7 linked regions of the Homo sapiens genome follow. The protein of the gene in region 7 purifies or fractionates together with the protein of the main gene of each other region. This does not show direct contact. Each region holds a gene or a part of one and is shown on either strand. Other genes may lie near its edges. The genes, in order: EIF2AK4, ARHGEF4, ZNG1C, NFXL1, BLTP2, SBF1 and DHDH.

What was found.
Region 1: the proteins of DHDH (region 7) and EIF2AK4 purify together in Homo sapiens (affinity purification with mass spectrometry; one large-scale study listed by BioGRID and IntAct). This does not show direct contact.
Region 2: the proteins of DHDH (region 7) and ARHGEF4 purify together in Homo sapiens (affinity purification with mass spectrometry; one large-scale study listed by BioGRID and IntAct). This does not show direct contact.
Region 3: the proteins of DHDH (region 7) and ZNG1C purify together in Homo sapiens (affinity purification with mass spectrometry; one large-scale study listed by BioGRID and IntAct). This does not show direct contact.
Region 4: the proteins of DHDH (region 7) and NFXL1 purify together in Homo sapiens (affinity purification with mass spectrometry; one large-scale study listed by BioGRID and IntAct). This does not show direct contact.
Region 5: the proteins of DHDH (region 7) and BLTP2 purify together in Homo sapiens (affinity purification with mass spectrometry; one large-scale study listed by BioGRID and IntAct). This does not show direct contact.
Region 6: the proteins of DHDH (region 7) and SBF1 purify together in Homo sapiens (affinity purification with mass spectrometry; one large-scale study listed by BioGRID and IntAct). This does not show direct contact.

Annotation. Positions count from the first base shown.
Region 1 is NC_000015.10:40,028,030-40,031,988, forward strand, and holds part of EIF2AK4 (eIF-2-alpha kinase GCN2), read left to right. Parts: intron 1-1,376; coding exon 1,377-1,435; intron 1,436-2,329; coding exon 2,330-2,427; intron 2,428-3,959. UniProt on the Homo sapiens protein: Metabolic-stress sensing protein kinase that phosphorylates the alpha subunit of eukaryotic translation initiation factor 2 (EIF2S1/eIF-2-alpha) in response to low amino acid availability.
Region 2 is NC_000002.12:130,835,128-130,839,876, forward strand, and holds the start of ARHGEF4 (rho guanine nucleotide exchange factor 4), read left to right. Parts: upstream 1-1,786; 5' UTR 1,787-1,826; coding exon 1,827-1,865; exon of another isoform or gene 1,866-1,867; intron 1,868-4,749. UniProt on the Homo sapiens protein: Acts as a guanine nucleotide exchange factor (GEF) for RHOA, RAC1 and CDC42 GTPases. Binding of APC may activate RAC1 GEF activity. The APC-ARHGEF4 complex seems to be involved in cell migration as well as in E-cadherin-mediated cell-cell adhesion.
Region 3 is NC_000009.12:68,293,864-68,297,598, forward strand, and holds part of ZNG1C (zinc-regulated GTPase metalloprotein activator 1C), read left to right. Parts: intron 1-3,716; coding exon 3,717-3,735.
Region 4 is NC_000004.12:47,883,273-47,887,231, reverse strand, and holds part of NFXL1 (NF-X1-type zinc finger protein NFXL1), read left to right. Parts: intron 1-1,232; coding exon 1,233-1,353; intron 1,354-1,574; coding exon 1,575-1,734; intron 1,735-2,794; coding exon 2,795-2,886; intron 2,887-3,959.
Region 5 is NC_000017.11:28,638,325-28,642,283, forward strand, and holds part of BLTP2 (bridge-like lipid transfer protein family member 2 isoform 1 precursor), read right to left. Parts: coding exon 3,951-3,959; intron 3,755-3,950; coding exon 3,565-3,754; intron 2,360-3,564; coding exon 2,236-2,359; intron 1,702-2,235; coding exon 1,577-1,701; exon of another isoform or gene 1,573-1,576; coding exon of another isoform or gene 1,563-1,572; intron 1,319-1,562; coding exon 1,251-1,318; intron 1,137-1,250; coding exon 991-1,136; coding exon of another isoform or gene 981-990; exon of another isoform or gene 737-980; intron 319-736; coding exon 200-318; intron 92-199; coding exon 1-91. UniProt on the Homo sapiens protein: Tube-forming lipid transport protein which binds to phosphatidylinositols and affects phosphatidylinositol-4,5-bisphosphate (PtdIns-4,5-P2) distribution.
Region 6 is NC_000022.11:50,464,861-50,468,819, reverse strand, and holds part of SBF1 (myotubularin-related protein 5), read left to right. Parts: intron 1-358; coding exon 359-444; intron 445-896; coding exon 897-1,034; intron 1,035-1,126; coding exon of another isoform or gene 1,127-1,129; coding exon 1,130-1,288; intron 1,289-1,371; coding exon 1,372-1,482; intron 1,483-2,109; coding exon 2,110-2,215; intron 2,216-2,337; coding exon 2,338-2,470; intron 2,471-2,561; coding exon 2,562-2,670; intron 2,671-2,745; coding exon 2,746-2,859; intron 2,860-2,979; coding exon 2,980-3,057; intron 3,058-3,491; coding exon 3,492-3,605; intron 3,606-3,690; coding exon 3,691-3,819; intron 3,820-3,902; coding exon 3,903-3,959. UniProt on the Homo sapiens protein: Acts as an adapter for the phosphatase MTMR2 to regulate MTMR2 catalytic activity and subcellular location. Promotes the exchange of GDP to GTP, converting inactive GDP-bound Rab proteins into their active GTP-bound form.
Region 7 is NC_000019.10:48,932,035-48,936,661, reverse strand, and holds the start of DHDH (trans-1,2-dihydrobenzene-1,2-diol dehydrogenase), read right to left. Parts: upstream 2,964-4,627; 5' UTR 2,941-2,963; coding exon 2,851-2,940; intron 1,663-2,850; coding exon 1,551-1,662; intron 631-1,550; coding exon 467-630; intron 1-466.

The sequences.
Region 1 (3,959 bases), on a different chromosome or scaffold from region 7:
CAAGGGATCTTAAATTACTTTGTTAAGCTTTTCTATATATTTGCAACTCCTTTTTTTTTTTTTGAGATAGAGTCTCACTTTTGCCGAGGCTGAAGTGCAGTGGTGTATACATGACTCACTATAGCCTTAACCTCCCAGGCTCAGGTGATCCTTCCTTCTTGGCCTCCTGAGTAGCTGGGACCGTAGTCATGTACCACCTTGTCCAGCTAATTTTTTTAAATTATTTGTAGAGACAGGATCTCCCTATGTTGCCCAGGCTGGTCTCCAACTCCTGGACTCAAGCAACTCTCCCGCCTCAAGAAATTCTTATATGTATGCTCATTATCAGAAAATACCACACGGTAATTTTTCTGGCTTACATCAGCAATTCTCAACCAACAATGATTTTGCTTCCCAGGGCACATCTGGCAATGTATGGAGACATTTTTGGTTGTCACAACTGGGGAGTTTTACTGGTATCTAGGAGAGGCCAGGGATACTGTGAAAACATCCTAAAGGGTACAGGACTACTACCCCCCAACAGAGAATTTTCTGGCCTAAAATTTCAGTAGTACCAAGATTGGGAAATCCTGGCTTACAGAAAACAAACCTTGCTCTGTTCTTCTCATGCCCCCACCCCTTCTTATTTGCACCTAGCCTTAATAAATTCACCATTAGGTGTTTCTGAGGGAACATAATGTTCTGGAAATCACCAGTATTGGAATTATAGATCTAAATCAAAGACAGAGGTTTAGAAGAGAAACCAAGAAATAGCCAAGTAGTGAGTATGGGGGAACATTACCAAGACACTTAAAAGGCTACATGGGATTTAGTTTTAGCAGGGAAAGGTTCAAAGTTTTTCCTCCAGCAAATGATTATTTCCCTGTTTTCCCAAGATAGAGTGCTGTTGTCTCTCTCAAAGGCTATAAATTAATTCACAGCATTTGAAAGAACATCCATTCACGGCTTTTTAAAGAATATCTTTATTTACCAAATGTTCTCCTGTGGGTGGTTGCCAAGGCTACTGCCATAATGAAGGTGGGGCTGCTGTTATTCATGTTTCCTTGTATTATGAGGGGGGCGGAAAGAACACCCATTATATTTCATTGAAATCAGCTTATTGTGTGGATCCAGGATTTCACGCCCAGCTGAATAAATCAGAATGTTTTCCTTAGGCATTTGTTAACTTAAAAAGACATCCTTTATAATTTTTACTTGCTCTTGACCAAAGCATAACTAAATGCAAATTTTTTGTTTTTGTTTTTCCACCAATAACCAAGAAGATGTTTTTATATTTAATGGAAAAGTGGCTCACTATACATGTAGTTCACTGTAAGTTATGTGTTGCTTGTGCCTTATTGACTGTTCTTTAATTGTTTTTGTTTGCTTGTTTTTAGAGAAGCTTCCGATAATCTTGCAGTGCAAAATCTGAAGGGGTCATTTTCTAATGCTTCAGGTATAATTACTAATTATAATCTGAACATAATGATGCTTATATGTTTGCTCTAAGCACTTATTACTGTAGCTAACTGCTTGTGACACTGGAAATCTATTTTTAAAATAACATATACGCAATAAATTGTACCACATGGGATGCATCCCTATGCTTTGAAATCCACATCCTAGAAAAGGATAAAACAACTGGAATTTAGCTGACTCTTCTACTCTATCTCTTATTTTTACAAGTGATTTAATCTTCCTTTTACTCAATTTATTGTACAAGTGAAATGTGTATAATTTTCCTGGAGATTTTCCTCATACAGAGGATTGAAGGAAGTATTTTGAAATCCCTTGAAGAAGGACACTATACACATTTTGTTTTCGTGAAAGCCAAGAGGGCACAGTGGTGATAGTTATGCCTTTGCTTTCATCACCTCTAGCAACCTTACTTCTTTTTTAAAGAAGTGTTCCAATTAAGGCCATGAGAAGACATATTTGGCTTTTAACAGAATTGAGTCTTTCCCATTCTCTTCTGTTAGCACTAACTTTGTGTTGCCATCAGATTTCCAATTCTTGCAGGAATTTAAAGAAGTATGCAGGTTTGGTGATATTCAGCTTGATTTTCTTAGGCCCCTGAGGTTTTGATGACTCCTGTTGCCTCCCTGCCCCTTCCACCACCCCCCAACCCCTGCCTGAGGAGAGAAGCATCAAAACTGCTGGGTGTTGGGGTTCTGGGCTCCTCACCTATCCGGTGCAGATGGTTGTAGGGATAGAAAACACAGCCCAGTCGTGATCTAGCCCTTAGAATCACGACAGGATGTCTACTAATAAACTCTGCCATCTCTCTGTAGTATGTTGTAGAAAGTGGGACCAGATAAGGCCATAAATTCTGAAACTCTCTTGGTCTCAGGTTTGTTTGAAATCCATGGAGCAACAGTGGTTCCCATTGTGAGTGTGCTAGCCCCGGAGAAGCTGTCAGCCAGCACTAGGAGGCGCTATGAAACTCAGGTACACTGGGTCAGGGTTTCTTTGGCTTTCTAATATGAGTTACAGAAGAGAAAAACAACAACAGGAAAGGAAAATAAGATAAACATGGAATTTCTTGGAAATATTTTTTCCAAGAAAAAAATTTTTCTTCCAACTTGCCTAACTGGGTGGCTTCTGGCTCCAGGATTCCCATCTGTCCTTCAGAGAGGGGCCATTGTGCACTGTGGGCACCTCAAGGCAGCTGTTGTCAGAGTGACTGCATCTAAATGAAAACTATCTAATCTGGCTCTAAAGGTAGTTGAGGTTTGTTTGTGCTCTAAATAGCAAAGTAGAAGAGGCCGATGACAAGACTTAAGGCAGGCTTCTCATTCCATACATGGTTTCGGCATTTGCTATATGCCTACTGGTGTGCTAAGGGCTGTGTAAAATGTAGAAAACATTAACATGGCCCCAGTCCTCAAAAGAGTTTATAACTTAGAAGCATATGCATTATATAGAGAATAATAAAAGCAAATAAATATAGGCCAGGTGCGGTGGCTTATGCCTGTAATCCCAGCACTTTGGGAGGCCGAGGAGGGCGGATCACTTGAGGTCAGGAGTTCGAGACCACCCTGGCCAACATGGTGAAACCCTGTCTCTACTAAAAATACAAAAATTAGCCAAGCGTGGTGGCAAACGCCTGTAATCCCAGCCACTCGGGAGGCTGAGACAGGAGAATTGCTTGAACTGGGGAGGCAGAGATTGCAGTGAGCCAAGATCATGGCACTACACTACAGCCTGGGCAACAGAGCAAGACTTTGTCTCAAAATAAAATAACTACAGTAGAACACTGAGTTAAATTTATAGAATATGAATGTTAGAGTATGCTGTGGACATATGCAAAAGAGTGAGTGTTAAAAGAGAGCAGTCAATTTTAGAAATGTAATCAGACTGAAATACAAAAATCAGGTACTTTATTTTTGTAAGCTCTTCTAGCTGTTTCTCAGGATTTGGGTGGAAACCTATTTTTCCCGTCTTCCTACTGCCTTCATCACCTACCAAGTTTCAGTTCTCACACCATGTCCTCATTGCTGCCACCTCTCCCTTTTTCCCAATTTAGCTTCATACTATCATCTCTCTGTCTCTGTGTGCACTGTTTCACTGCGCTACGCCTTTATAAGGAATCATTTCAAAATTATGAAGAGATAATTGACAAGGATTATTAAACAAATGGTCAAGATAAGTTATAAAAACCTCATTTCCCCTGAGATCATATTGCTAGACACCCCTTTCTGAGTGGATTAAGAGCAAATCTTCTTTTTTTTTTTTGAGACAGAGTCTCACTCTGTCACCCAGGCTGGAGTGCAGTGGTGCAACATCAGCTCACCACAACCTCTGCCTCCCATGTTCAAGCGATTCTCCTGCCTCAGCCTCCCGAATAGCTAGTATTATAAGCGCCGGCCACCATGCCCTGCTAATTTTTCTATTTTCAGTAGAGACGGGGTTTCACCATGTTGGCCAAGCTGGTCTCAAACTCCTGACCTCAGGTGATCCCCCAGCCTTGGCCTCCCAAA
Region 2 (4,749 bases), on a different chromosome or scaffold from region 7:
AGGGGTTCTCTAAGTGTGGTCCCAGGGCCAGCAGCTTCAGGGTCACTTGGAAACATGTTAAAATGCAAATTCCCAGGCCCCACCCCAGATCCTGTGAGAGGGGGGCAGCGGTGAGGGGCAGCAGCCTAAGCTCTATGGTGTCCTCCACGTGGTTCTGACTCAGGTCTGAGAACCCAGGTCCAGGGCTGTCCACTGGTCAGAGGAGTCCAGACAACAATGGAACCTGTGGCCAGGGGTTGTGTATTTTCACTGGACCTCCCCCCTCGCCAGGGGATTAGCACTTTAAGCCTTCAGAGAAGAGCGAATTAACTTTTGCTAAGCACCTGTGAGGTTTAATTTCTCACGTACTCTCCATGGCAACCCCACCAGGCGGTCATTCCTCTCGAATGTTAAAGATACGTGTTTAGAGCAGATGATCATGATTACACAACTGGTGTGCAGCACAGCCAGGTGCCCAGATCCGAATCCCACACCCTCCTCCCACCACCATGGGCCTCAGGGACATGCTTCTAGCACAGTCATGGACCCTGAGTGACATAAAGGCTGTGACAGGGGACGCAGGATCTTCAGATGGCCCCACAGTGCCTCCTCTGAGTATCTATCTCCCAAGCTTCTCGCCTGGCCTGGTTGCTGTGAGGGCCTGGGGAGAGGCAGAGACAGGTTGGGTGTACGGAAAATGCACACTCTGCCAGGCACCCCTGACACGCACTGCTGACCAGGCATAGCGTTCAGTGGGGCTAGGACTTGGACGAGGGTGCAGGCTTGAGCAGGGGTGCAAAAAGCCAGTCTGGGCAGATGCTCTCCCTCTGTGGGGCGCCGATCTCAGAAATGGTGGACAGAGCAGGGCTGCAGTATGGTGCACATGGGCCTTGGGGTCTTAGCTTTCGTGGGCCTCTTCCTGCATAAAATAAAATAGTTAAAATTAGAGTTTACAACTGCATTCATATAAAGATGAATATACTCCAGGCTAGATTCATTATTATTTTATTATACTCAGTTTTTTTCTTCTGATTTAAAATAGTGCGGTCCTAGGGCTGGTTAGAGTGTTTCCTGGCAGGCCCTGTCTCCTTAAACCCCTGCAAAGAAAGCAGCGAGGACTTCCCTTTGCCCCTTAGCAGAAAGCTGCGCTCCTTAATGGTTACGGGTGTGACCATTCACTTACATCCTATCTGCAGGACATACCTGGAAAGGTAAGTGGGAGGCAAGAGGGAGCTGGAGGCCAAGACTTCGGTCCCAGATATCCTAGTCCACATTTGTCCCCACCAGGTGTGTGAGTGCCGGCGCGCTGCACAGCCTCCCTGGGCCTCCGTTTCCTCAACTGGTAAACAAGAACGCTGGGCGGACTGAACTCTGAAAGTTCTGGGAGCTTGACAATCAGAACTCTCAGCAGAGAGGCCGCCCCTGCTCTCAGGAGGGCGGAGGCACCTGAGTCTCCAGTGCGGAGGACAGGCCGAAGCGCTGCGTTGGAGATGTGCAAATGCGCAAGAAGCGTGCTGCTTTCTCTCTGAGAAAACACTCCTAGGCTTCAAGGGGGCCCAAGAGCTCGACTGGGCGGGATGATCCCGGCGGCCCCTGGGCCGGGTCTGTGGACGGCTCTGCTGTGTGCCTGTGCGTGCCCAGTCCCGCGGGTGACCAAAGCCCAGGGGCGGGCAGGGCAGGAGCCTGGACCTCACGTGCCTCCAGTGGCCAGGTTTGCGGGGGCGGAGCGTCCGGGCGAGGGCGCGGGGGCGGACCCTAGGGCGGGGCGCGGGGTGGCGTCGGTGGAGCCGGCTCGGCGGCGCGGCTCGTAGTGCTGCGGCCGGGCTCCGGGCGTCCCGGCGGCCACCATGCTCAGCGTCGTGCACTTCCTCCGGAGCTTCTTCAAGGTGAGAGCCGGCGTCCGGGACTTGCGGTCGGGCTCCCGGCGCCCTGCGCGGGTGGGGAGGAGCACAGCCCGCGCTGGCTGCTGCGCCCCGGGCCGTCCCCTGGGCACCCGGTGGGTGGGGACACCCTCGTGGCTCCCCGCCGCTCCCAACTTTCCGACGTGCAGACCGGAGGCGGCGTCCTGCAAAGTGGGGCCGTCTCGAGCGCGGGGAAGGACGGGGCTCCGTTGGGGGCGGTAGGGACGGCGGCCCGGGGCGAGCCCCTGAGAGGGCAAGGGCGAGCGCCTGAGCCGGCCTCCCCGCACCTGGACCGTCCTGGGCGCGCGGGGCACTCGGAGCCGCTGCCTGGACCGGCCTGGGCGCGCAGGGCACTCGGAGCCTCTGCCGCTTGGCGCAGTACCAGCTGTTTTGGGAAGGAGGGCTGGTGCCGGCCCGGTGGGTACGGGAGAAGTGGTTGCTGTTGTTATTCCCCAGGCTGAGAGTACGCGAGGGCGCAGCAGCGGCAAGGGGCTGGAACTGGGGTCGGGGCTGTTGGGCTCCTGCTCGGGGTGCCCCCTCTCTGGCCCGATTTCCGGGCCCGCTCACCATCCGGGACCCACTCAGTTGGGACGCCTCCACCTCGCTGCCCCCACAGGAACCCCAAGATGGGCCGGGGGCTCCGGGGCACTGTCAGGGGTGGCCGGCCACAGGTTGCCAAGCCCGACCTCCCCAGGTGAGCCAGCGGGAGGGCGGTTGCGACGCTGGGTGGTGCTGAGCTCCGATGGGCTCCTACTCCGGGAGCAACTGCATGAAAGGAGAGGCGGGGAAGAGCCACCAGCTGTCAGCTGCAGGTCCAGGGGGAGGCAGACCTGTGTGGGGCTGTCGGGGCGGGAGGGCGGGAGGGCGCCCTACTTGGCTGTGCAGCCATCTTCTCCCGGAGTTGAAGACGGGAGGTTGAGGTCGGAGTTCTGTGGCCCTGAGAGCTCTAGTGAAAGGGGCAGGAAGCCAGGTGACCCAGGGCAGACCTGCAGGAGCCCTGCCCTCAGCCTATCCGCTGGCCTGGCATCAGCTCCCACCCCCAGCGATAACGAAGTGATCGCTGGCATCAAGAGTGGAGAGGGCCGGACAGCCGGGAAGGCAGCCTTTCAGGAACCTGTGCTGGTGAGTGTAGGAGATGGCTTGGAAGAGCTCAGACCCCCTTCAAATGCCGACTCTGTCATTGAGGAGGTGTACAATCTTGGGACAATCACATAACCACCTGGGTCTTTGTTTTGAAAAATGTGGGTGATGTTTCCATGCCCTCCACACCTTTCAGGGTTAGTGTGAAGGTCTTATTAGAAAATGTGAGTGTGGCCCGGCGCGGTGGCTCATGCCTGTAATCTCAGCACTTTGGGAGGCCGAGTGGGGGGGGCGGATCGCCTGAGGTCACGAGTTCGAGACCAGCCTGGCCAACATGTCAAAACCCCGTCTCTACTAAAAATACAAAAATCAGCCGGGCGCGGTAGTGGGCGCCTGTAATCCCAGCTACTTGGGAGTCTGAGGCAGGAGAATTGCTTGAACCCGGGAGACAGAGGTTGCAGTGAGCCAAGATAGCACCACTGCACTCCAGCATGGGTGATAGAGCGAGACTCCGTCTCAAAAAAAAGAAAAAGAAAAGAAGGAAGGAAGGAAGGAAAGGAAGGAAGGAAGGAGGGAGGGAAGGAAGGAAAGAAACGTGAGTGTGTTTATGAAGTGGTGAGCCCTGGACCTTGGTTCTGCTGCACCCACAGCAAGGGTGGCAAGGAGTTGCCCAGGTGAGGGGAAGATGGCCGGACAGAATCCAAGATGCCTGGGCAGAATCTGAGTCACCCAGCTGGCCCCAGAAGCTCCAGGAGCAGGTGGAGTGTGGCTGGAGGAGAGACCACTGGACATCTCTGGGCAGCCACCTTGCCTGCTGCTGCCTGGGAGGCTCCTGGGATTTGGCCTTTGTGAAAGTATTCCTGACACACACGGTCCTCCAGTTCCCCATCTATTCAGAGAGGCCTTTCCATACTTTCTGCCTCAGGTCCCTGTAGGTCCTGAGACACCTGAGGCCTCCCCATGCACACCACAGGAAGCATCACCTGTGCCCCTCAGAGGGTCTCCTTTCTGCTGTCCACATGGGAGGGGCTCTGACTGCCACAGCAGTCCACTTCTGGCTGTGTGAGTGTGTCTTGCCGAGCCACCGACAACGTAGTTCATACTTGTTCCTCTCAGACACTGGTCGTAAGGAATACCCCGTGAGGACACAGGTTGTGGGGTGGGCAGAGGAGCTACGTGCTTCAGTCACCGCCTGGTGCCTCCTGGTGTCCCCAGGGATTGGTCCTATGAGGTACCCCTGATGATGGGTGCTGGACTGGGCCAGAAAAGGCCACTTCATTCTGGGAACCTCAGATTGTCTGGGTCTCCCAGTCAGACTCTGTTAGCCAAGATGCAGCTAGTCTCCACCAAGCCCAGGAGGAGGACCCCAAGGCCCCAGGTGTGCCTTCTGGTGGCACTTGGTACAGACTCTGTACAGCACACAGATCTGCTTGGGCACGTTGGGCACCGTGGGATCCATGGGGCATGACAGTCGTGTGGCAGAGTCCCTCCCCGTGCAGGCAGACCAGTCGGAGAGCCTGCACCTGCCAGGGGCCCACACAGGTGCGCCGCCTTGGGGGTCACCCAGCAAATGAGTCAGAGGAGCAGCACACCCAAAAGGAAAATATGTTGTCTCAAAAATCCAGAGGCCCTCCCAGCATCGTGTGTGGGCCAAGCATGACTTTTGATTTCGAGGGTGTATTTCAAAATGTTCCAGACAGCTGGACCCCCTGCTGCCTGCCTGGAGCCGTCACTGAAGTGGCAGGTCCCTGTATTTTCATGGAATGTATGTCCTACTCTCTGGTACATG
Region 3 (3,735 bases), on a different chromosome or scaffold from region 7:
CAACAACCACAGAATATACGTTCTGTTCAACAGCACATGAACTTTCTGTAAGATAGACCATATGATAGCCAACAAAATGAGCCTCAATAAATTTTAAGAAAATTAAAATTATATCAAGCACTTTCTCAGACCACAGTGGAATAAAACTGGAAATCAACTCCAAAAGGAACCTTCAAAACCATGCAGATACATGGAATAACCTGCTCCTGGATGATCTTTGGGTCAAAGATGAAATCAAGATGGAAATGTAAAAATTCCTCAAACTGAATGACAATAGTGACACAACCTATCAACCTCTGGGATACAGCAAAGGTGGTGCTAAGAGGAAAGTTCATAGCCCTAAATGCCTACATCAAAAAGTTGGAAAGAGCACAGACAATCTAAGGTCACATCTCAAAGAACTAGAGAAACAAGAACAAACCCAGCAGAAGAAAGAAGATCAGAGCGGAATTAAATGAAATTGAAACAAAACAACAAAAAAATCCAAAAGATAAATGAAACAAAAAGCTGGTTCTTTGAAAAGATAAATAAAATTGATAGACCGTTAGCAAGATTAGCCAAGAAAAGAGAGAAAATCCAAATAAGCTCAATAAGAAATGAAACGGGAGATATTACAACTGACACCACAGAAATACAAAAGATATTCAAGGCTACCATGAACACCTTTACATGCATAAACTAGAAAACCTAAAATAGATGGATAAATTCCTGGAAAGATACAACCCTCCTAGCTTAAATCAGGAAGAATTACCCTGAACAGACCAGTAACAAGCAGGGAGATTGAAATGGTAATTAAAAAATTACCAACAAAAAAATGTCCAGGACTAGACGGATTCACAACAGAATTCCACCAGATATTCAAAGAAGAATTGGTACCAGTCTTAAAGACACTATTCCACAAGAGAGAGAAAGAAGGAATCCTCCCTAAATCATTCTATGAAGCCAGTATCACCCTAATACCAAAACCAGGAAAGGACATAACCAAAGAAGAAAACTACAGACCAATATCCTTGAACATAGATGCTAAAATCCTTAAGAAAATTCTAGCTAACTGATTCCAACAACATATCAAAAAGATAATCCACCATGATCAAGGGGTTTCATACCAGGGATGCAGGGATGGTTTAACATACACATGTGCGTAGCCAAAGCAAGACTAAGCAAAAAGAACAAATCTGAAGGCATCACATTACCTGATTTCAAACTTATACTATAAGGCCATAGTCACCAAAACAGCATGGTACGGTTATAAAAATAGGCACATGGACCAATGGAACAGAATAGAGAACCCAGAAATAAACCCAAATACTTACAGCCAACTGATCTTCAACAAAGCAAACAAAAACGTAAAGTGGAAAAAGGATACCCTTTTCAACAAATGGTGCTGGGATAATTGGCTAGCCACATGTAGGAGAATGAAACTGGATCCTCCTCTCTCACTGTATACAAAAATCAACCCAAGATAAATTAAAGACTTAAATCTAAGACCTGAAACTATAAAAATTCTAAAAGATACCATTGGAAAAATCATTCTAGACATTGGCTTAGGCAAGGATTTCATGAACCCAAAAGCAAATGCAATAAAAACAAAGATAAATAGCTGGGACTTAATTAAACTAAAGAACTTTTGCAGAGCAAAAGGAAAAGTCAGCAGAGTAAACAGACAACCCACAGAGAAGGAGAAAATCTTTCATAATATATACATCTGAAAAAGAACAAATATCCAGAATCTACAATGAACTCCAACAAATCAGCAAGAAAAGCAGTCCCATCAAAAAGTGGGCTAAGGACATGAATAGACAATTCTTAAAAGAAGATATACAAATGGCCAATAAACATATGGAAAAATGCTCAACATCACTAATGATCAGGGAAATGCAAATCAAAACCACAGTGCGATACCACCTTACTTCTGCAAGAATGGCCATAATAAAAAAATCAAAAAAATAGTAGATGTTGGCATGGATGTGGTGAACACGGAACACTTCTACACTGCTGGTGGGAATGTAAACTAGTACAACCACTATGGAAAACAGTGTGGAGATTCCTTAAAGAACTAAAAGTAGAACTACCATTTGGTCCAGCAATCCCACTACTAGATATCCACCCAGAGGAAAAGAAGTCATTATACAAAAAAGATACGTGCACACGCATGTTTATAGCAGCACAATTCGCAATTGCAAAAACGTGGAACCAACCCAAATGCCCATCAATCAATGCGTGGATAAAGTAACTGTGATATATATACATACAATGGAATACTCCTCAGCCATAAAAAGGAGTGAATTAATGGCATTCACAGTGACCTGGATAAGATTGGAGACTATTATTCTAAGTGAAAGAACTCAGGAATGGAAAACCAAACATCGCTATGTTCTCACTCATAAGTGGGAGCTAAGCTATGAGGATGCAAAGGCATAAGAATGACACAATAAACTTTGGGGACTCAGGGAGAAAGGGTGGGAAGGGGATGAGGAATAAAAGACAAAAATTGGGTGCAGTGTATACTGCTCAGGTGATGGGTGTACCAAAATCTCACAAATCACCACTAAAGAAGTTAACCAACACCACCTGTTCCCCAGTAACCTATGGAAAGAAAGAAATGTCTCATATGTTTCTGCCTAAATTGGTCTTTAATACTTTAGCGATTCTCTTGAGTTTGGATTATAAAATAGTTTTTGGTCTTTTTGTATTTTCTGCTGTAAGCCTGTATGATTATGTAATGGTGAGTAAAATTGCTAGGCCAGATACGCAGTTCTAGGAAGTTATGCAAAGATGTGCTTTAGTATATTATTTTCTACCTTTTTAAATTCATTTTGAGCTTGGCTTTTGAGCCTCTATTTTCCAAGGTGGGGTGTATGTTTTTATAATGTTATGCTTAGCCCTTGTGTATTTTCATCTCTGAGTTTGAAATTTGGGGTTATATTGGCAAAGGGAGGTTTGGGTTTTAATTAGGTGACCTGTTAGAGGAAATGTTAAGCTTCTGTTTCTTTAGGGTAGACAGTGAGAGATTTATCAAGATAAAGAAGAAAAATAAATCCTAAAGTTAATATTCAATACATGATGATGTCACCCTTACTAAAGCCAAAGAGGGCATTATCCTATCATTCTCATCGCTAAGAACTCTTCTCCTCTTGGCACATGCTTATTCAGTTAAAGATAAGCCAAGCCTTTCTTTTGTATTTTTTTTTTAAGAGAACAAATTTACTTTGGTTTTGAGTTTTATTCCTGGCTCTGGGTAGCTTATTTTTTTGACCCTTATTTTCCCCAATTTATAAAATGAAATAGTTATCTTCACTCCCCAGGATTGTTGTGAAGAGTAAGTCAAAAGATACAATGAGGTGACTCAGGCAAAAGTACCTGGCCCTGTGTAGTGAGTACATTGTATGTGTTACATATATTCTTATTCCTGAGAATCCACGAAAGAATGAATTAAATAATGAGGACCCTTTCATCAGGGTTTCTGAGTGAGTTTTTTAAAATACAAGGTAGTAGTTTGTGTAAATACTAAATCCATTGGTACCTGTGCAGAATGTAGGAAATGGAGTTGCTAATTCCAAAAAAACAGCACATATGCTGAGGAAAGTATAATACGTAATATATATGGTTTAAGCAATGTAAAATTCCATGAATATGTTCCTTTCATCTTAAAATTTGTGATTTAAAAAACATTGATATTACTATAAAGAATTATTATTATTTCCCTTGATTTACAGAGTATTGTTACAATCACAT
Region 4 (3,959 bases), on a different chromosome or scaffold from region 7:
TTCCTTTATTATTTCATTTCTGATAGAGTTCCTTACTGGGAAAACTAGAGTGGAAGAAAGCCCTTAAGATGATGACAGAACCTCTTGGAGCGAACTTTATAGCCTGCTTTAAAGATTTCTTTGATTTTGTTTTTTTATATTTTTGCCAACCCATAACAAAAGAGCGTAAAAAGCTGAAACCAAAATAACATTTTTTTTTATGTTTAGAAGAGAAATATTTGGGATTATATCCTAAAATGGTGGCTTAGTACTTAGTCTTTCACAAAGCACAATTAATGGAAAATTGACTGTGCTTGCTACTAACCAATATCAGGTCATGAGAAAGAAGTTATTGGGAATTCATCTAAAAATTGTGTACTTGGATAGATGTATGAAAGTAGGCCAACGATATTATTGTTAATGTTAAATTTTCCAAAGACTTAAATCCATTTTTGCTTGTTTTAGTTTTGAATGAGTAATGTGTTAAATTTGTTATTTAGAACAGAAGTTTTAGCACATTTTAGAGAAATGTCTAAAACTTTATGAGGTACCAGTGTACAGAGAAAAAAGTGTTATAAATCAGAGGCTGGGTGCAGTGGCTCACGCCTGTACACCCAGCATTTGGGAAGCTGAGGTGGGAAGATTGCTTGAGTCCAGGAGTTTGAGACCAGCCTGGATGACATAGTGAGACCCCTCCATCTCTATAAATAATCAAAAATTAGCTGGGCATGGTGGTGTGTGTCTGTAGTCCCAGCTACTTGGAAGGCTGACGTGGGAGGATTGCTTGAGCCCAGAAAGTTGAGGCTGCACTGAGCTGTGATCATGCAACAGCACTCAGCTTGAGCAACAGGTTGAGACCCTGTTACAAAAAAAAAAAGAGAAAAGTATTACAAATAAAAAGTATACAGCTTGTTGAATTTTTACAAACTGAACATAGCCAGGTAACCAAAACTTACATCATTAAACAGAACATGACCAAAATTTTCAACACCTTCCTTGCATCCTTCATAGCTATCACTCTGATTTTGAACAGTACATTTTTTCTTGTTTACTTTATATAAATGGAATCATGCACTATGTACTCCTTGTGTCTGGCTCAATGTTTTGTGGTAAGATTCATTCATGTTGTTGTAGTTTCTTCATTCTTGTTGTAGAGTATCCCATTGTGTGAATATACTAAATTTATGTATTTTACCATTAATAGGCATTTGGGTAGTTAAGGAAACTTTTTAATTGTCAGACTTTTTTTTCAGGCAGTTGCTATCCCTGCCCAGAAACCGTAGATGTGAAGTGTAATTGTGGCAATACAAAGGTGACAGTGCCCTGTGGCCGAGAACGTACCACAAGACCACCCAAGTGCAAGGAGCAATGCAGGTGAGTTTGAAGCTTTGCACAAGCTTCCATCTGATGTTGTACAAATTTAAATTCATATTGGCTTTTAATAATTTAATTTTGCTTTAGTGTTTTAAAATATTAATATTCACAGTATACTCATTCTATATGGAATCAGAAGATATGTAAATAGATAATTGTCCTTTAGATGTAATTATTCAATGACTAAAAGTAATTTTTGAAAATTGTACTTTATGATTTAGTCGACCACCAACTTGTCATCATACAAGTCAAGAAAAACATCGCTGTCACTTTGGTTCTTGTCCACCATGTCATCAACCTTGCCAAAAAGTTTTGGAGAAATGTGGTCACTTGTGTCCTGCTCCGTGTCATGATCAAGCATTAATAAAGCAGACTGGCAGGGTAAGGGAATAATACTATTAGAGAAATAGTGCATTGCTGTGGGTTGTACTTTCTTGCTTTTACTTAGTTTTTCAATGAGCAATGATTAAGCACTTATTGGGAAGCACTGTGCTTGGAGCAGGGTACAAGGTAATCAAGACTTGATTTTGTTTTAAGCAACTCACAGTGTAGGAAAGGAGTGAAACCATTGTTTGCAAATACAGTGTGATAGTTACATTATGATCATGATACAGGTGAATTTGGCAGTCCTCCTTCATATATTGTGGTTTAGGGTTATAGATATCTCCTATAATCTTATTTTAAAGATTTATTCACTTTTTAATATTTTATTTAATATTTATTTATTTTTAGTTATTTAATTTTTTTTTTTTTTGAGACGGAGTCTCACTCTGTTGCCCAGGCTGGAGTGCAGTGGTGTGATCTGGGTCACTGCAACCTCCACCTCCCGGGTTCAGTGACTCTCGTGCCTTAGCCTCCTGAGTAGCTGGGATTATAGGTGCCTGCTACCATGCCCAGCTAATTTTTGTAGTTTTAGTAGAGATGGGGTTTCAGCTTGTTGATCAGGCTGGTCTCGAACTCCTGACCTCAAGTGATCTGCCCGCCTCCGCCTCCCAAAGTGCTGGGATTACAGGTGTGAGGCACCACGTCCAGCCCAGCCTCATGAACATTTATTGAGCCCTTACTAAATATCAAGCTTTTTTTTAGGTGCTGAGGAACAACAGTGAGTAAAATGATGGAGATTATATTCAATTGCTAGATGTTGGAGTTTCCAATTGTTTTTCTCATTTCCTTATTGGAAGTAAAGGAGGCTACACTGCCTTTGTTCTACCATTTATAAACTGGATTCTGTCTCAGTTATTAATATCAAATGTCTGTGGAGAGGAACAATTTCATTTAATACAGATAAAATGAAATATTTCAGTAAGCACAATTTATTGATTATTTGAAAAAATTTCAACCTGCTTGAGCAGAGGATACATGGAACTATTTTCTTAGATTCTTAAAATGGCCATATGATTTAATCCCTCTGACTTAAAATTCTTATGTATTTTATTTGTAGCACCAGCCTACAGGCCCTTGGGAACAGCCTTCTGAGCCAGCATTTATTCAGACTGCATTACCGTGTCCTCCATGTCAAGTTCCTATTCCTATGTAAGTATTAGAATTTCAATTAAAAAAAAAAAACAAAAAACTTTTGACATAGCTTAAAGGGTATCTGAAGTCAATCTCCCTTTTTTCTTAGTTCAGTTCATTATTATTTCAGGCCTAGCCTATCAACTAGTGTGTCTGTCTTAACCTTCATTCTTTTCAAACATGTTTGTCATACTTGCATATAAACCTACTATAGATATCTTTTTTTGAGTCTTTACCCCCAGTTGGAGTTTGATGCCCTTCTTAGCTTTCCATAGCGAGTGCATGCAATTACAAAAACAAATCCAAGGAACATCATTTGTTACTTTTCCCGATGATTCCCATACTGGATTGTAAGCTCCCTGAAGACAGAAGAAAGCCAGGTTTTAGATAAGGCAAACTTGGGGAATATTTAAAGGAAGCCTTGGAAATGAGAGGAAGTAGTTTCCTGGATGGGCCAGTGAATGACTGGGACTGAGCTCTAAGGAGCTGAACCTACAGTAATACGGAATCCTGGAATTTTTTATACTTCCAGCAGAGGTTATGGAGTATAGGGGAAAAAGCACAGAATGCTGAGAAGCAACATAAAGTTAGAAAAGGGGCTGTTGTCTACAACTGAGGTGCCAAATTAAACATTGGTATTTCTGGTGTATTGGTCTTTTAAAGAGAGGATTGTTTTTGTTTTTTAATTCTAAAAGCTTTCATTTCCACAACATTCCTCCCAGTTGAAATAGCATGTATATTTTTGTGTATTGGTCACACAGTCAAGTTGGGAGGCAAAGTGTTGTTAGGAGATATATGCACAAATAGGGTAATTTTAGTCTGTAGATTTAATGGAGGTGGGCTGTGTAGTTAGCAGAGAGGTTTTTCATGTAGGTATTCAGTTATTTGAGACTATTCTTTTACTGAGGACTTAAGTTATAATCATGAGGAACCAAGTTGTTGCTAATATCTCTAAGTTAGAATTATTAGTGGCCTAAAATTTTTCCTTGAGAGAAACAGAAGAGACATTGATATTATAATTCATAGGCACGAAAATGTTGTCATAATTACCTGAGTAATTAGGTCATAAGTACCTAATTACCATTGAGTTC
Region 5 (3,959 bases), on a different chromosome or scaffold from region 7:
ATGTGGGAGTCACTGCCCACACGCCAGCAGAGGTGGTCCACAGTTAGGACGCCCCGCTGATGGATGCTTTGTGGCCTGAGGTGCTGGTAATCTGAACAAAGGTGAGAAAGAGGGATTGCATGGAGCCACTGTGGCCATCAATTGGGCCTAGCTCCACTAACGGACAGATTCTTGTTCCTATTCCATCTGAGAGCCTTACCCAGAGAGATAGAATTGAATCCCAAGGCAAAAGGTGGTGTATCTCCAAGTTGAATGGAAATGTTGACATTGGAGATGGAGGTGCTAAAGATGATGGGAGCCAGGATTTGGGGGAAGGTTCTGCATAGGAACAAGACATCATTGTTTGGTAAGAAAAGAACTGCAGCTTCCTATCATGGAACAGTTTCTGAAGCTCTCACAATCAGAGTGAGAATTCAGAGTTTTATTGTGATTCTTAGGACGAGACACACCTAGAAGATAAAAGGCTGAACTCATCAGTTTATTGCTACTCTTAATGGTAATCTGCAGGAACCCCAAAAGGATATTAGGTTGACTCATATAAAATTATCATTTTCATAGGCCAAATACAATGAACACCAGCAATACTATACGCTTGAACCTAAAATAACCAAGAAGCATCACTTCTAAACCATAACCTTAAGTTCTCTGTGCAGCACAATAGAAGCACTACACAAAGACATGACTGCCACCTTACAATCAAAGGCAGGCAAGACAAAGACATTCCTTATCATTTAAGTTCAGTTCAACAAACATTTATTTTGTATAAAACACTACACTGAGCACCGAGGACATAAAAACAAAGAGGACAGCATTCTGCTATCAAGGAGTCTAGTCTAATGGGAAAGATATATAAAACAGGATTGCTGTTGAGACTCGGATTTGAGGAGGTCAAACAACCAAATACATATTTAACACAGGATGCCAATTTGGACCAAAAGAATCCCAGAGAATCCAACTGACAAGAAGGTGGCTGAAAAAGATCAGACTGACCTTTTTTTCCTTTGCTTTAGAACAGGTGAACTAGACCCTTGGGTTTCCAGTGCTAGCAGGTGCAGCCAGTGAGAGAATTCCTGGTGCCGGTAGTGAATGATGCAAGTGTTCAGAACTAGGGAGGCTGAGAGGTCAATGGTGGTCACCTGAAATAAGAAGACCAGAACTGTGGGTTTGGGTTTTATTTCACAAACTCAAAACGAAATAATGTAGCGGGAGAATAGAGAAAGGAACAATTCTTGGTACCACAATCATCACACCTGCACACTAGCCTTGAGGGAGTTGAGGCAGACAATGCGTTGGCGACTCTGGGACAACAACAACCCATCTGTAAGAGGCCAGAGGACAGATCAGAGGAGAGCACTGGAAGGGCAAGAGGTAAAACTGGGAGAGGGTCAGAAGCCGGCAAAGGGATCAACAGACTGTCATCAAAACTTGTGAGCTGGGGCTATTTTCTCTCAGTATGTTCCCTCCTTCCACTCCCCAGTTACACTGAGATTAGATTAAGGAGACCATATGGGGCATGAGCAAAGAGAGTATCTAGTCCTCCCATTCTCGCTCAGTACCAGTACCCCGACCCATGAACCTTCCAGCAGCAGTTCAGTGCTCATCTGTGCCATATCAGAGTTTGCTGTGAAGCTTCGAAGGGGCAGCTGATCCTCATCACGGTGGTACAGGAACTGCAGCAGCTTCAGAGTCCAAGTCAGGTGCCTGGACCGAGACAGATTCCAGCTCAGGAAGATGTGGAATGCCATTCCTACTTCTTTTACTTTTATTTTTTAAAAGTAATTATTTTTTGGCCAGGCGCAGTGGCTCACTCTTGTAATCCCAGCCCTTTGGGAGGCCGAGGCAGGGGGATCACGAGGTCAGGAGATCGAGACCATCCTGGCCAACACAGTGAAACCCTGCCTCTACTAAAATACAAAAAATTAGCCGGGCGTGGTGGCACGTGCCTATAATCCCAGCTATTCGGGAGGCTGAGGCAGGAGAATCGCTTGAACCTGGGAGGCAGAGGTTGTGGTGAGCCAAGATCGCACCACTGAACTCCAGCCTGGGCAACAGAGCAAGACTCCGTCTCAAAAATAATAATAATTTTTTTAATTTTTCCCACACTACATGGATGTAACCATTTCTACTTCCTTTCTCCCCGTAGACAAGCTCAGCAAATACTAGGCTGGTTACAGAGATACCAACATACAGCTCCCACTATCACTCTCCCATCTTCTGTGTCAGGAGAGACCTCACCTCTTTTGACTATTCATGGACAATACCACGCTTGTGTTCTCCATCTTAACCTTGACCTGGTCTGGCAGCTGCTGGAGAAGGAATAGGCCAGGCAGAGTTGGCTCAACTAAGTTTTCTGTCACCTCTGAAAATATGAATGAATAACGTAAGAACCATCAATTCTTAACACTCCCAGTTCTCCCGAAATGCCCTGGCCTCTATGGTCAAATCCTCCCACATAAAGTAGGCTAAGCAAATGCCTAAGCTGGATGGACCATAAGGCGAATGCCCCAGAGATCCAGGCACCTGCAGTACTTCTTTCTCCAGTCTCTAAAAACCTAAAGAGTACAAGGAGCAGGTTGGTAAATGAAAAGAATGTGGACCTTAGGGCCAAATAATTTAAACATCATTTTTACTACTGACTGCCTGTATGACTTCAGTCAAGTTACCTAGCTAACCTTCCTAGGCTTCAGTTTCCTTATTTGTGAAATGCTGAGGATTTAGTTAGAGAATATACAGTCATCCTTTGGTATCCTTGGAGCTTTGGTTCCAGGACCCCCTGCAGATACCAAAGTCCGCACATACTCAAGTCCAGCAGTTGTCCCTGTGGGAACTCATGTATACAAAAAGTCAGCCCTCCATATTGGTGAGTTTCATATCCTGCAAATATTGGCATTTTCCATCCACACTTGCTTGTGGATGCGGAACACACAGATATGGAGAGCCAACTGTATTTATTGAAAAAAATCCACATAAGTGGATCCGCACAGCTCAAACCTGTGTTGTTCAGTGGTCAACTGTATATAAAACACATAGTACAAGGCCAGGCATGGTGGCTCACGCCTGTAATCCCAGCACTTTGGGAGGCCAAGGCTGGCGGATCACGAGGTCAGGAGATCGAGACCATCCTGGCTAACACGGCGAAATCCCGTCTCTACTAAAAATACAAAAATTAGCCAGGCATGGTGGCGGATGACTGTAATCCCAGCTACTCAGGAGGCTGAGGCAGGAGAATCACTTGAACCCAGAAGGTTAAAGGTTGCAGTGAGCCGAGATCACGCCATTGCACTCCAGCCTGGGTGACAGAGCAAGACTCCATCTTTTTTTTTAAAAAAAAAGGAAAAAAAAAAAACCCATAGTACAGGTCTAACTCATGATAGGTGCCCACTCAATGCTGGTTCTGCCACTCAGCACAAGCAAATGCCCTATTTCCTCTAACTATCCTTAGGGTCAAAGTCCATGGTGACTAGTGAATCACATCTAAATAAGCAGTGAGACCACTATTTTTTCTACTTCCAAAACAAACCCTGAGAACAAGGCAGCCAAGAAGCTCAATCACTGGGGCTTTACCTGAACAGGGAACAGGCTTAGATGCTAGGCTTGGGCCCTGGCACAGCAGTTGGCTCTGGAAGAGGCCCTCATGCAGTTCAGCATGGAGTGTCCACACATCCACAGTGATAGCAGTGAGATGCCGACTGCTAATGCCCACCTTTAGACACAGGTCCAGGGCCAGTGAAAGCTCCACTAGGCAGGTGTCCTCCTGTGGGGATGATAAGCCTCTAAGGTGTATGTAAGAAAGTTTGGAAGTTTTAGGTCAAAATGTGGTGATCTGGAACACTGGGTACTGACTTGAGGGAACCCCCTAAGGTCAAAGAACCTAGGATGTAAGCCCTAAGCTCCTTCACACTTTACGCCCAGGAGGAAATGAGGCATCTGAATGATCATGGCATACTTACCAGCTGACC
Region 6 (3,959 bases), on a different chromosome or scaffold from region 7:
AAGTGGGGGCCTGGCGGTGGTGGCAGATGCTGTGGGGGCCTGTGGAACAGTCCCGAAGTGTTGACCTTCGATGGAGGGCTGCTGTGCTGTGTGAAGCTGGGCTGGTCAGGCTGAAGGAGGTCTCTGGGGTGGGATCGGAGAATGGGGTGTAGCGGCAGGGGCTTCTCTACCCTCAGGTGGCCCTGGGGTCTGCAGCTGTCAAGCAGACTCTCCATACGGAGCTATTTTTAGGGAGCTGTGGCTGATCTGGTGCCAGATGAGGGCCCAGTGGGTGGGAATGTTTCCACCCTGGGATCCTCAAGCCTCCTGGTGGGTGGGGGGCGGGTTGGGTGCTCTGACCCCCTGTTCTTGTCCTCAGGGAGTGGGGAAGGCCAGGGCCAGATTCTGCAGCGCTTCCCAGAGAAGGACTGGGAGGACAACCCATTCCCCCAGGGCATCGAGCTGGTGAGTTGGGGGCGTGCTGAGACGGTGCTGGCAGGTGGGGAGGGCAGGTGGGCACAGCCCTGCCCTTGTCCCTGACTGAGGGGCCTCCACAGTGCCCGGCCCCCCGCTGGGCTAGGGACAAGACAGCAGAGCCTCTGTCGGGGGGTTTGACCGGCTTGGCCGGCGGCCTGTGCGGTGCTCATGTCACTGTGTCATGTTGTCACTCACTCATGATGGTGGGGACTGTTCTCCCATCTCCTGGTCCTTGCCCCAGGTGGGGAGGTCAGAGGCTGTTACTCCCTTCACCCGGAGAGACTGAGGCCCAGGAGGCCACGTGTCCCCAGGGTCTCCAAGCAAGGAGCTGCCTGTGTGTGTTGGAGCCTCCAGGCCTGGTGGTGCAGATGCTGGGGCGGGTGGGCTGGTTCCTGCCACAGGTGTAGGGGGAGGAGCTGACTGCTGAGCCTTCCCTGCAGTTTTGCCAGCCCAGCGGGTGGCAGCTGTGTCCCGAGAGGAATCCACCGACCTTCTTTGTTGCTGTCCTCACCGACATCAACTCCGAGCGCCACTACTGCGCCTGCTTGACCTTCTGGGAGCCAGCGGAGCCTTCACAGGTCAGCTTGGGGCCTCTGGGTACAGCATGAATGAAGCTGCATCCTTGGGCCGTGGCCAACTCCCCCTGCCCCCGTCTCCCCCTGACCCCCAGCAGGAAACGACGCGCGTGGAGGATGCCACAGAGAGGGAGGAAGAGGGGGATGAGGGAGGCCAGACCCACCTGTCTCCCACAGCACCTGCCCCATCTGCCCAGCTGTTTGCACCGAAGACGCTGGTACTGGTGTCGCGACTCGACCACACGGAGGTGTTCAGGGTGAGGCCGGCAGCCGGGGCGGCGAGGCACGACGAGGGTGCTTCCATCGGCTGTCCCACCACTCCCCGCTCTGGTCATTGCAGAACAGCCTTGGCCTCATCTATGCCATCCACGTGGAGGGCCTGAATGTGTGCCTGGAGAACGTGATTGGGAACCTGCTGACGTGCACTGTGCCCCTGGCTGGGGGCTCGCAGGTGAGTTTTGGAGGCAGCTGGTATCTGCACAGCCACAGGCCCTCCTGCTGGGGCCCTGGTAGGTATTTGGAGCCCAGCCAGAGCCACACACAGCTGGAGGCCTTGGATGCTCCCTCTTGCGTCCTCGTGCCACCATTGCCCCCAACAGTCCTGGCCTGCTTACCTGGCCCTCGCACCTGTGCTCTGGGCCTGTGTCGTTCAGCCTCTCTGTCCACTCCTTTGATGGTGTGTGCCTGTCTCTGGATGTTGATGTCAGCTTGTTTGTCTGCTCCCTGCCCTGTGCCTGGGTGTGTTGGAGTGTCTAACCGTGTCTTTCTGCCCGTCTGTCCTGTGCAGCTGGACTCTGTTGAGGAAGGAGCGGTATGGATTCTTTGTTTCTTCCGCCCACCTAGGCCCCATCCCTACCCCCAAGTCAAAAGCAGCCACTCCTGTCCTGAGTTTTCTCTGCAGCTGCTTGGGACAACAGAGGCAGGGCATGGCGTTTCCCTCTTGCCATGTTGCCCATCCCAGCCAGTCCCACCTCGGGTCTGTCAGTACACCAGGGTCTGCCTGGGGACACAGAGCTCTGGGCTGACTCTGGGCTGGCTCTGGCCAAACTACTGAGCCCCGATCCTTTTTTTGCTGCAGAGGACGATCTCTTTGGGGGCTGGTGACCGGCAGGTCATCCAGACTCCACTGGCCGACTCGCTGCCCGTCAGCCGCTGCAGCGTGGCCCTGCTCTTCCGCCAGCTAGGTGAGCCTGTCTGTCCCACCCCCGCATGGCTTCCCCTCGGGGACTGGTAGTTAGGGATGTGGGTTCTCACTCTGCCTGGGTGGGGGCCCAGGGTCCTCTCCAAGCTTCTCTTCTTCCTTTAGGCATCACCAACGTGCTGTCTTTGTTCTGTGCCGCCCTCACGGAGCACAAGGTTCTCTTCCTGTCCCGGAGCTACCAGCGGCTCGCCGATGCCTGTAGGGGCCTCCTGGCACTGCTGTTTCCTCTCAGATACAGGTGACCCCTGCCCGGCCCTCCCAGCCCCTTCTCCTGGCCCCTTTGCCCAGCCGCGTCCCCTGGCTCACTGCATCCTCTGGGGCCTGCACAGCTTCACCTATGTGCCCATCCTGCCGGCTCAGCTGCTGGAGGTCCTCAGCACACCCACGCCCTTCATCATTGGGGTCAACGCGGCCTTCCAGGCAGAGACCCAGGAGCTGGTAAGGGCTGTGCTTTGTGTCCACCTCACGGCCCAGGCCTGCAGGTCCCTGACTGCCGGCTCCCTTGGTCCGCAGCTCGATGTGATTGTTGCTGATCTGGATGGAGGGACGGTCACCATTCCTGAGTGTGTGCACATTCCACCCTTGCCAGAGCCACTGCAGAGTCAGACGCACAGTGTGCTGAGCATGGTGAGGGGCACCATGGGCAAGCGGGAGCCTTGGGGGCCTTTGGGATGTGGCTACCTGGCAGCACGGGGAGCCTAGAGCCGGGGCCAGCGTGCAGCTGCCTGCTCCATTCTGTGCTGGCAGGTCCTGGACCCGGAGCTGGAGTTGGCTGACCTCGCCTTCCCTCCGCCCACGACATCCACCTCCTCCCTGAAGATGCAGGTGGGGGTCGTTGCTGCTCCTGCATGGGGACCCCAGGCACTTAGGCTGCCCCCACTCAGGTCTGCTGCCACTGACACACAGGGCCCCACCCCCAGGCTGGCCCCGGCTCCAGTAGCAGAAGCAGGAGCCTGGGAGCAAAGCAGCTGCCAGCAGTTAGGAGTGGTGGTCGTGAGTGGTGCAGGCGAGGCGGCAGGGGCCCAGCAAGGGGCTGGAACTTGGCGTCTGATCACAGGAGCCCTTGAGGGTGCTGAGCCAGGAGTGCCTTGTCCAGACAGTTTCAGAGGAGCTGGTGGCCCTGAGTGCAGAATGGTGGGAGGGGCAGAAGGATGGGAGCGGGGCAGCTTGGGGTGGGTTGGGGTGTGGAGAAGCTCCTGGGCAGCCTGGGGTGGGGATTGGCAGGACTGGCTCTCACCTGCACTCAGCTCTTCTCCCAGGACAAGGAGCTGCGCGCGGTCTTCCTGCGGCTGTTCGCTCAGCTGCTGCAGGGCTATCGCTGGTGCCTGCACGTCGTGCGCATCCACCCGGAGCCTGTCATCCGCTTCCATAAGGTGGGGTGCCTGGTGGCTGGGCGTGGGGTAGGAGATAAGCGCATGGTGGAGACCCCTGAGGGACCGACCTCCTTCTGTCATCCAGGCAGCCTTCCTGGGCCAGCGTGGGCTGGTAGAGGACGATTTCCTGATGAAGGTGCTGGAGGGCATGGCCTTTGCTGGCTTTGTGTCAGAGCGTGGGGTCCCATACCGCCCTACGGACCTGTTCGATGAGGTGCACCTCCACCCTGCCCTCCCAGCCCCCTGCCCTGGCTCCGCCTGACCATGGCTTACCTAACCTCCTGCTTACCCCGCTAGCTGGTGGCCCACGAGGTGGCAAGGATGCGGGCGGATGAGAACCACCCCCAGCGTGTC
Region 7 (4,627 bases):
TGCAGTGGCGCAATCTTGGCTGACTGCAAGCTCCGCCTCCCGGGTTCACGCCATTCTCCTGCCTCAGCCTCCCAAGTAGCTGGGACTACAGGCGCCCGCCACCACGCCCAGCTAATTTTTTGTATTTTTAGAAGAGATGGGGTTTCACCATGTTAGCCAGGACGGTCTCGATCTCCTGACCCCGTGCTCCGCCCGCCTCGGCCTCCCAAAGTGCTGGGATTACAGGCATGAGCCACCGCGCCCGGCCGGCATCTTTTTCTTAAAGACTGACAAAAGATCCAAGCAATTTCAGTAAGCCTTGCCGTGTTTGCTAAGGGCCAAAAGCAATGGCTTTCACGGTAATAGATGCTGCCAAGGAGATTCAGATACATCCTGGCAAATGCACTGACCCCGTCCGCGCACTGGCAACCATATTTAATGGCAAGCACTTTTACGCTGGATATTGGAAGGGCTCCTCTGCCCTCACCTCCATAAGGAAGAGGGCTCGGGATCGGGCCTCCGCGACCATCTCGCGAACTTCCGCCGCGTTCACGCCCGTGGGCTTCTCGCACAGAACGGCCTTGCCCGCCGCCAAGCACAGCATCACCGCCGCCTTGTGCTGGGGGTGCTGGGTGCCAATGTAGGCCACCTCTAGGGTGGGAGTAGGTCAAGAGGTCAGCAGCCCCGCCCACCCAGACAGCCGAGCTCCGCCCACAACTTCGAGGCCCCGCCCTAGCACCCAGGGACCAGGTGGTCGGTCACACCCCTGTCTCCCTTAGGGAGCTGTCCTTAGGAAGGGGCTGTTACCTCTCGCCATTCTCGCTCTCTTTTTTAAAATTTTTAATTAATTAATTAATTTTTTTTTTGGAGGCGGAGTCTCACTCTTCGCCCAGGCTGGAGTGCAGTGGCGCGATCTCGGCTCACTGCAAGCTCCACCTCCCAGGTTCACGCCATTCTCCTGCCTCAGCCTCCCGAGTAGCTGGGACTACAGGCGCCCGCCACCATGCCCGGCTAATTTTTTGTATTTTTAGTGGAGATGCGGTTTCACCGTATTAGCCAGGATGGTCTCCATCTCCGGACCTCATGATCTGCCCGCCTTGGCCTCCCAAAGTGCTAGGATTACAGGCGTCAGCCACCGCGCCCGGCCTATTTATTTATTTCTAAGACCAAGTCTCACTCTGTCGCCCAGGCTGGAGTGCAGTGGCGCGATCTTGGCTCACTTCAACCTCTGCTTCCCGGATTCAAGTGATTCTCCTGCCTCAGCCTCCCCAGTAGCTGGGATTACAGGTGCGTGCCACCATACCTGGCTAATTTATTTTTATTGTTATTTTTTGTAGAGATTGGGTCTTGCTACGTTGCCGAGGCTGGTCTCGAACGCTAAGTGTAGTTTAACACCTACTAGACAGCCAGTCCCAGACCAAGCCCGTTTTATAGTTCTCCTCCCAGCCAAAGGTCTTTATGGAACCCAAAGGGATTGGACCATCCTGAGGAGCCTTGCATCTCCCAGGGGGCAGCCAGGGGGCACCGCTCCAGGGGCGGCGGCCAGCACCCCCATCGCCCTCGCCACTCACCCACGCTCGGGTCCTTGGCCAGCTCCTCATAGGAGCCGTAGGCCTTGGGGATGTCGTGTTTCTGTGCAAACTCCTTCGCACGGCTCAGATCGCGGGCCGCCACCGCCACCACCTGGAGGGGCACAAGAATCGGATTTGAGGGGCTGAGGCAGGCGTGGAAACTGGGTGGAAGGGAGGCAAAGGAGGAGGCTCTGGCCAGGGGAAGGGGAGACGTGGTCCTGGGGGAAGAGATGACGGGGGCTGGACATTTGGGCCCTGGGAAAGAGAGATCTGGGGGAAAGCCGTTATTAAATCCCCCAATATTGAAATTATCTTCATAGTAGCTTACATCAAGGCCTTTCCAAACCTCAAGACACTCAGGTTTGTGTGGGGAAAAGAAAGAGAGATCAGATTGTTACTGTGTCTATGTAGAAAAGGAATCTGTATCATGAATAAGTTCAAGGAAAGGTGCTGTGACCGGATGTGCACGTAGGCTAGATTTATGTTTCACTTTACACAAACATCTCAGTGTAGCAAAGAGTAACAGAGCAGTATCACTGCCAGCATATCTCGCCTCCAGCCACAGGTAGGTTTTCTCCTATCTCAGAATAGAAGGAATGGGAATGGTCCGCTTTACACTGAGACAGTCCATTCCCAGGGAGAGCAGGAGACAGAAGCCTTCCTCTTATCTCAACTGCAGAGAGGCCTCCCTCTTTCACTACTCCTCCTCAGCACAGACCCTTTACTGGTGTCGGGCTAGGGGATGTAAGGTCTTCCTTTCCCACGAGGCCATATCTCAGGCTTTCTCAGTGGGGGGAAACCCTGGACAATACCCAGGCTTTCTTGGGCAGAGGTCCCTGCGGCTTTCCGCAGTGCAATGTGCCCCTGGTTAATAGAGAATGGAGAATGGCGATGACTTTTACCAAGCATACTGCCTGCAAACATATTGTTAACAAGGCACATCCTGCAAAGCCCTAAATCCATTAAACTTTGATTCAATACAGGACATGTTTCTGTGAGCACACGGTTGGGGCTAAAGTTACAGGTTAATAGCATCTCAAAGCAGAAACAATTTTTCTTAGTACAGTTCAAAATGGAGTTTCTTATGTCTTCATTTTCTACGTAGACACAGTAACAATCTGATCTTTCTTTTCCCCACAGGTTTGCAGAACAGAGATGGAGAAGGAGGTAGCAAGGAAACAGACGTTTCACTGCAATGACGACCCACTCACTAGTCCTGAACCCTAAACTCCCTCCTCCTTTAGACTCTGGAGTCCCGCCCCCCGCCTCCTCTTCCCCAGAATCCGGAGGGCGGGCAGACCTGGTGCTCAGAGCGAGGCAGCGTCTGCAGCACGGCTGTGAAGTCGCTGGAGATGAGGCCGACAGACACGATGCCCCAGCGCAGCGCCATGGTTGCGATGCGGAGCCCTCGGCACCTTCGGTCCCTCCAGGCGCGAATTAAGTACCTGACGCCCCGCCCACCCCGGGGGCGGGTCCCCATCCTCCGCCCGTATTGCGCCTACGCCGATTCTCGTTGGCTCCAGTCGGCAGAGCGGTCATTTAGTTCTAGCTTCCCCGCTGGGCGAATGCACCGTTTAGCTCCGCCTTACAGAGGGAACCACACCTTGACGTCGCTTCTACAGATCTCTTACCTATGACTTTAGGCTCGTCGGATACGCGGGGTAAGGACAGCGTGGGGAGGAGAGGTTTGCTTTCTTGCCAACACCAATCCTTGAGAGTTAGATTTAATGTCTTGCCCTCTGGACTTTGTGGCAAAACTTTGCCCTGACTTTTTTGCTCTCAAAGCCACGCATCATTAGGGGTTGTTCACAGAGAGAGAGAGGATTGTAACAGCAAACTTAATAATTATTACTAATATGTATAGAGCACCTGTAGACCAGCTCCTCAGCTCTGCGCTTTACCTTCTTCGTTCCTAATTTCTCCCCGCAGACCTGGGAAGTAGCTTCTATTGTCCCCAGTTCACAAAGGGGGAAACAGACTCCAAGATCCCTGGTCATTTTTTGGAGGTCTCACAGTCAGGAGGTAAAGACCTGTGAATTGGCTGCTTCCAGAAGCTATAGTTTTAGAAACCAGGCTGCTTTGCTTGTTAGGAGCCCCAGAGCCTGGCCGACTGGTTTCAAAACCCTCCTTGCCCCTTCTTGGCTGTATTGCTTTTGGACAAGAGGTCGCCCTCTCTGGTCCTCACTTTTCTATTCTGGAAAGCAGAGATCATGATAACATCTACCTACATAGGGTTGTGAGGAGGATTCATTGAGCTCTATGGTCTATTATGTAAAATATACTGTATTATTATAATTATTATTGATATAGGGTCTCGCTCTGTCGCCCAGGAAGGAGTGCAGTGGCACAATCATAGCTCACTGCAGCCTCAAATTCCTTAGCTCAAGGAATTAGCTCCTGCCTTAGCCACCCTAGTACCTGGGACTACAGTAGCTGGGACCCAAAGTAGCTACTGGCTACTACACCTGGCTAATTATTTTGTTTTATTTATTAATTATTTTAGAGATAGGGTCTCACTCTGTTACCTAGCTGGACTGCAGTGGCGTGATAATAGCTCACAGCAGCCTTGTACTCCTGGGCTCAAGCTATCTTCCCGCCTCAGCCTCCTGAGTAGCTGGGAGTATAGGCATGTGCCCCACTTACCGCTATTTGTTTGTTTGTTTGTTTGAGACGGAGTCTCACTCTATCCCCAGGCTGGAGTGCAGTGGTGTGATCTCAGCTCACTGCAACCTCCGCCTCCCTGGTTCAAGTGATTCTCCTGCCTCAGCCTCCTGAGTAGCTGGGACCACAGGCGCCCTCCACCATGCCCAGCTAATTTTTTTTATTTTTAGTGGAGACAGGGTTTCACCATGTTGGCCAGGATGGTCTCGATCTCCTGACCTTGCGATTTGCCTGCCTTGGCCTCCCAAAGTGCTGGGATTACAAGCATGAGCCACTGCACCCAGCCTGCTAATTTTTGTTGCTGTTGTTGTTTGTTTTTTGTTTTTGAGACGAAGTCTCGCTCTGTCATCCAGGCTGGGGTGATCATGCAGTGGCATAATCTTGGCTCACTGCAACCTCCACCTCCCAGTTTCAAG